Homo sapiens: one gene and its partner. The protein of the gene in region 1 purifies or fractionates together with the protein of each later gene. This does not show direct contact. Each region holds a gene or a part of one and is shown in the gene's direction. Other genes may lie near its edges.

What was found. Proteins that work in one complex are often made in the same cells at the same time.
Region 2: the proteins of ZC3H13 (region 1) and RSF1 fractionate together in Homo sapiens (co-fractionation; one large-scale study listed by BioGRID). This does not show direct contact.

What each region holds. Positions count from the first base shown.
Region 1 is NC_000013.11:45,956,278-45,958,824, reverse strand, and holds part of ZC3H13 (zinc finger CCCH domain-containing protein 13), read left to right. Parts: intron 1-1,527; coding exon 1,528-1,698; 3' UTR 1,699-2,547. UniProt on the Homo sapiens protein: Associated component of the WMM complex, a complex that mediates N6-methyladenosine (m6A) methylation of RNAs, a modification that plays a role in the efficiency of mRNA splicing and RNA processing.
Region 2 is NC_000011.10:77,674,078-77,677,733, reverse strand, and holds part of RSF1 (remodeling and spacing factor 1), read left to right. Parts: intron 1-734; coding exon 735-942; intron 943-2,477; coding exon 2,478-2,698; intron 2,699-3,656. UniProt on the Homo sapiens protein: Regulatory subunit of the ATP-dependent RSF-1 and RSF-5 ISWI chromatin-remodeling complexes, which form ordered nucleosome arrays on chromatin and facilitate access to DNA during DNA-templated processes such as DNA replication, transcription, and repair.

The sequences.
Region 1 (2,547 bases):
AAATTAGCCGGGCATGGTGGCGGGCATCTGTAGTCCCAGCTATTTGGGAGGCTGAGGCAGGAGAATGGCGTAAACCAGGAGGCGGAGCTTGCAGTGAGCAGAGATCGTGCCACTGCACTCCAGCCTGGGCGACAAAGCAAGACTCCATCTCAAAAAAAAAAAAAAAAAAAAAAAAACTGGGATTTTTATTTGGGGTGGTGAGTGGATGGGTATAGGTAGTACAGACTGAGTATTCCTAATCCGAAGCTTTTGAGCATCGACATGACCCTCAAAGGAAATGCTCTTTGGAGAATTTCAGATTTTGGATTCTTAGATAGGGATGCTCAACTGGGTAAGTAAATGTAATGCAAATATTCCAGAATCCAAAAAAATTTCCAAATCTGAAACATTTCTGGTCCAAAGCATTTCAGTTGAGGACTACTCAACCTGGATGACAAAAGAGAGTTGGTGTGATTCTTTGCTTAGAAAGTTTAGAGTAATGATAAAATGGTTAACTTCACTAGCTTTTTACTTGGGGCAGTTAGGAAAACAGAATTATCTTTGACTATATAACATTGCTAAAGAAAAGATTACTTCATTAAAGAAAAATACTCAGATTTAGGGTAGTGGGTAGGGGGGATTCAATTTTTAAAAAACAGAAGAATGAGTTTATCTCCAAAGATTAAAATGGAAACAAATACGAGGAACAGGAGATTTTTAAAACATGTCTTGACTGTATAATCAAGTTTTCCTCACTTAAAAGTCTGGTTCAAGATTACTTTTGACAGAATCACTACAGTCATTCTCCTTTGCTCCCTGATTTCAGTATGCACTTTTCTTTGTTTTGTATTTTGTAACATTCCCTGGTCCCTTCTCTATGACAATAACTTTCCAAAAAATGCTAATGTAACTTTAAGTCACAATAATATAGATACATATTTTAGTATAAGGGAGGTAGTAGTTCTTCAGCATACTGCATGATTAGCTGTCTTCTAAAGGATTTATTCAGTTTTCGAGCTCACTTTTTATGGGACATTGAAAGATTGGTAAGGAGTATAGAATAGAATGTTTGGCTTACAGAAGGAAAAACTATGTGAGGAAGGAACTCATGGCACTTACCTTCATAGAACTGAAGGATTGTCAAGTAAAGGTAAGATTGAATTACAGTGTAGCACCATAGAAGAGCTTTTATTCCATCACATGGAAGAAATAGTGCCATTCAACAACAGAACGTGCAGTGTGTTTTTTGTTTGTTTTGTCATTGGAAATGATAAAGTAAAAACCGGTTGATTACCTGTCAGAAATTGTTGAGAGGATTCCTACTTTAAGCAAGAGGTTAAACTAGGTGCCCTCTAAAAGTTTCTTTTCAAAGATTCATTGAGCCCAAACACATTTTCTAATTTTGCTTTGAAATCCAATAAAGCTAATTTAATATCCAAAATGAAATACTCTTATAACTTTGATATTTTGGGTAGAGGTTAACCTGCCCATCTTTCCTACTAATAATGTACATCTTTTTTAAAGTTTGTTTTTGTTTTCTTCAAATAGGGCACCATAAAACAAGCTTACACGAGTGCTCCAATGGTAGACAATGAATTACTTCGATTGAGTCTTCGGTTATTTAAGCGGAAGACTACTTGCCATGCTCCAGGACATGAAAAGACTGAAGATAATAAACTTTCACAGTCCAGTATCCAACAGGAACTGTGTGTGTCTTAAGACCGAAGTTCAATATGGTATTTTTGGTACTGTCTTCCTTCAGCAGTGCATATTCTTTTGCAAAGTTCTTTGGTTTGACAAGCATTAGTGACAAAGGCAGAAAAGATTTATCAGCCATGCTAAAAGAGTGAAGAATTTTGATCTTTAGAGACACTAGTTTTGGCCAACTTAAGATTTTACGTTAATTTTTACATAGTATTTGACACTCATGCAAAATAATGTGAAAACATCTAGATTTAGTAGTTTATTCTGCGCCTTTTGTTAAAACTGAAGATTTTGGAAAATGGTTGTCACTGCTCTTCCAGCCTATGAATATTTTTGTGAAATGGAACCATGGATTTATGTCTGGATCATCCATACAGAACCAACAATTTTATTCAAAAACAATGTGTTCATCAAAGTAATTGCTCACATTGTGCAGTACTATGTTGTACAGACCACGTGAAAGGGAATGCTGGTCTAGCTGGCGTGGTATGTTTATAGGCGAATTTCAGCAGAAGGAAGCCAAAATAGTTTTTTCCTTTTGAAAGTTTTTTAAAAATTATTTCATGGGTCTTTTTTTTAATTAATATGTGTGCATTGTTACAATGTATGTTGGATGTCTTTTGACCCTAAATGCTTTTTTTGTTATCAGAGATTGTGTACTATTTTTATTTTTAATAAATGTATCTTCCCTTTCCTTGTTTTAGATTTACTTTGCTCTTCGTTAATCTTATTCCTGATGATCTAGAACATTAGTCATCAACATTACATGTTTCATGCTTCAGATATTTTACTGCTTGTGTCCTTATTGTTGGACAGCTTTAAACAGAGTTGATGTACTTCAAATATAGCTCATTGATACTTAAG
Region 2 (3,656 bases), on another chromosome or scaffold:
ATAATTTAAACCAAAAATTTTTAAGTTAACCTATTAAAAATTGGTTTCTTAATTTCATAGTCTTTAGTAAGTGGCATTAAAATAGAAGAACTTGAAGGTAATTTAATTAAAGCACTATTAGCCAATGCTCCAATATGGAACATTCTGGTTTCTACTTAGTTATTATGAAAACTCTGGAAAAGATTAATAAGTAGATTGTTTAAGGCTTTTCCAGAGATGTATGTTTTATTTACATTTTTGCTGCTGAATTCTCACTTTTTCTGTCCTGCAAACACTGTTTTTAAAAACTCTATTGGCCTCTTTCTAAAGCCTTGTCCAAAAGACAGCTTTCAAGAAGAGATTCTTGAGTGACTGCTCATAGGTATGAGGTTTCTTTTTTGGGTGATGAAAATGTTCTGGAGTTAGGTAGTGGTGATGGTTGCACAACTTTGTGACTATACTAAAAATGTCTGAATTGTACACTTTAAGAGGGTGAATATTGCGGTGTGTGAATTATATAAAAATTTAAAAAACGAGGTTCCCTACATAGTAAACTTCTCTTCAGTAGGGTAAACGAATGCTAAAACTCTGAGACCTCTGTCAGCTGAAGTCATAAGAAAACTGCATATTTGTTGGAAGAAAATAAAGAAATGAAGAGCTGCTAAGCATGAATAAGGACTGTCTCTAGAAATTAAAGGGAAGCTTTTAATAAACACATATTTTTCTCTCCCCGAACTTCCCTCCCCCAAATTCAGGAGTTGGCCGAGGAAAAGATATCTCCACCATCACAGGTCATCGTGGGAAAGACATCTCTACTATTTTGGATGAAGAAAGAAAAGAAAATAAACGACCCCAGAGGGCAGCTGCTGCTCGAAGGAAGAAACGCCGGCGATTAAATGATCTGGACAGTGATAGCAACCTGGATGAAGAAGAGAGCGAGGATGAATTCAAGATCAGTGATGGGTGTGTGGTCTCCTACTAGGCCCCGATCCCTAGATACCAGCAGGAACAGGACTGGGCTAGCAGAGAGGCTTGCCCATGCTGTGATGAGGGTTTTCTTCTTCATGTACATAGACAACCTCTGTTTATTTTCAGGATATTTAAAGCAGATTCAAGAATACTAATTTTGGCCCATTTTTAAAGTTTAGAACAGAAAATAGATTTATGGTTGTTTAACATTCAAAATTGTATTTAAATTTTACTAACTACAATTAAACTTTCATTTGTTGAGAGCTTTCTCTGTACCTCTGTGCCACCTTCTGCCAGGTCCATGAGGGGTTTCCAGTCCTATGTGAAAAATAAATAAGATATTATCCTCTCATGACTCATAGAAGTTGGACTTGGGACTGGTAATCCAGTATAGAAGATCAAGAAAGGCTTCTTTGCAGAGTTGGAATTGAAACAATACTGCAGAGTTTCTCCTTTCAGATTATTAGAAGAGGAAACAAGTATATAAACCACAAAAAAAAAAAAAAGTCATTCTGCATAACTGCTACTAAAATACAGGGAAAGATAAATTAGGCTACAGAGGAAAGTTGGCTTAATCCAAAGAGTAAACCTTAAAGTAGAAGTAAAGCTTGATCTGAAATTTGAAGAATGAGTATTTGGAATCAACAAGTATGAGACTAAAAGCAGGATAAGAAAAAGGTATTCTAAGCATAGAAGTCACATGTCCAAGACAGCAAGCCGTAAAATGTCATAGAATGTTTGGGAAACTCCTGTTGGCTCTGGATAGCAGGAATAAGGGGATGAAGTAGAGAGTGCCCTACTGGAGATGTGGTCAAGTGATAAAAAGAGCCAGATTAGGGAGTGTTTTATTTGTCATGCATAAGTGTTTTGACTTTATCCTGAAAATTATACAAAACCAGTGAAGGGTTTTAAACACTAAATTAATATGAGATTTATGCTTCAGAAAGATTCATCCTGGCATTCATTTGGAGGATAGATTGAGGGGAAATGAGACCAGATATTAGAGAAACTATTTGTGGAGTTGCTTTTGTAGTTAAGGTGAGTATGAAAAGCTGAAAACAGAAGAGATCAGGTTTGAGAGATTATCTTTTAAGAGGTAGACTCTAGAGAAATTATTAATTTATTGGATATGAGAAATGAAAAGGGGAAAGTTAGGATAAATACCACGTTTCTGGTTGGAGTTACCGGATGAGTGATGGTGCCAAATACCAGGCCAGGGAACAGAAGAGAGAAGTAGATTGGGAAATAATGAATTCACTTTTGAATATGTCGAATTTAACATGGGGGACATCCCAAGAGGTCAAAGCAGTACAGAAATCAACATTAATTCATCTTTACAACCCCTCCTAAGAGGATAGGTGGCAAAACATTTTCCCCATTTTATAAATAGGGCATTTGATACAATTATCCAGATATGTTGCACTATACTTAATGATTCACTGGGCTCACCAGAATTTGAACTCAGAACTCTTAAAAATGGGTTCACTCTTCTAAATACCATTGTATTTTATCTGATTTCTCTTGGACAGATCTCAAGATGAGTTTGTTGTGTCTGATGAAAACCCAGATGAAAGTGAAGAAGATCCGCCATCTAATGATGACAGTGACACTGACTTTTGTAGCCGTAGACTGAGGCGACACCCCTCTCGGCCAATGAGGCAGAGCAGGCGTTTGCGAAGAAAGACCCCAAAGAAAAAATATTCCGATGATGATGAAGAGGAGGAATCTGAGGAGAATAGTAGAGACTCTGGTAAAAATAATCTGTAACCATATGGTAGCTCAATAAATTATTTTTTGTTTTTCTTGTTGCTCATGCTGGAGTGCAATGGCACCATCTCGGCTCACTGCAACCTCTGTGTCCCGGGTTCAAGCGATTCTCCTACCTCAGCCTCCCAAGTAGCTGGGATTACAGGCATGTGCCACCATGCCTGGCTAATTTTGTATTTTTAGTAGAGAGGGAGTTTCTCCATGTTGGCCAGGCTGGTCTCAAACTCCCGACCTCAGGTGATCTGCCCACCTCAGCCTCCCAAAGTGCTGGGATTACAGGCGTGAGCCAGCACGCTGGCCAGCTCAACAAATTCTTATGACTTCTGGAGTTAAGAGTTCTTAAAATTCTGTTCTTAAGACTTATTTCTGACTAAATTTTTCTCATAGAAAGCACATCTGAGAAAATACATACTGATTGATACGTTAACTTCATATCAGATGCCTAGTAGGATTGTGATGACTCCTTGGTTGTCAAATGTTTCCACTCCTAAACCTTCATCTTCATAGGGTTTCTTGGAAATCATTCTCAATAAACTGTGAACATTTCCCTCAGATGCCCAGCTGTTGGAGAGAGAAGAATACAAGTTAACTCTCATTTAGACCACAGTCAGTGTTGAGTAGTTTTTACAGATTAACAGTAGTTGATGTTGTTATAGAGTATGCTTATCCCTATTAAGTGAGTAAATAGAGGCTCAACCGCTACAAGAAATGAATGCTTTATGTAATTGGCAAATTGATAGGTGTCATCTTATTAGAGAAGAACCATAGATATGAGTATCAGACTCTGGCCATCCTTGTGGGTTTTTTTTGGTTTTATTTATCTTTTTTCCTAAACCATCTAAATAAGTGATGATAATATCATGCCCCTTTATCAGTGATTATTTCCTAAGGACAAGGACATTTTCTTACATCACCACAATGCAATTACCAAATTCAGATAT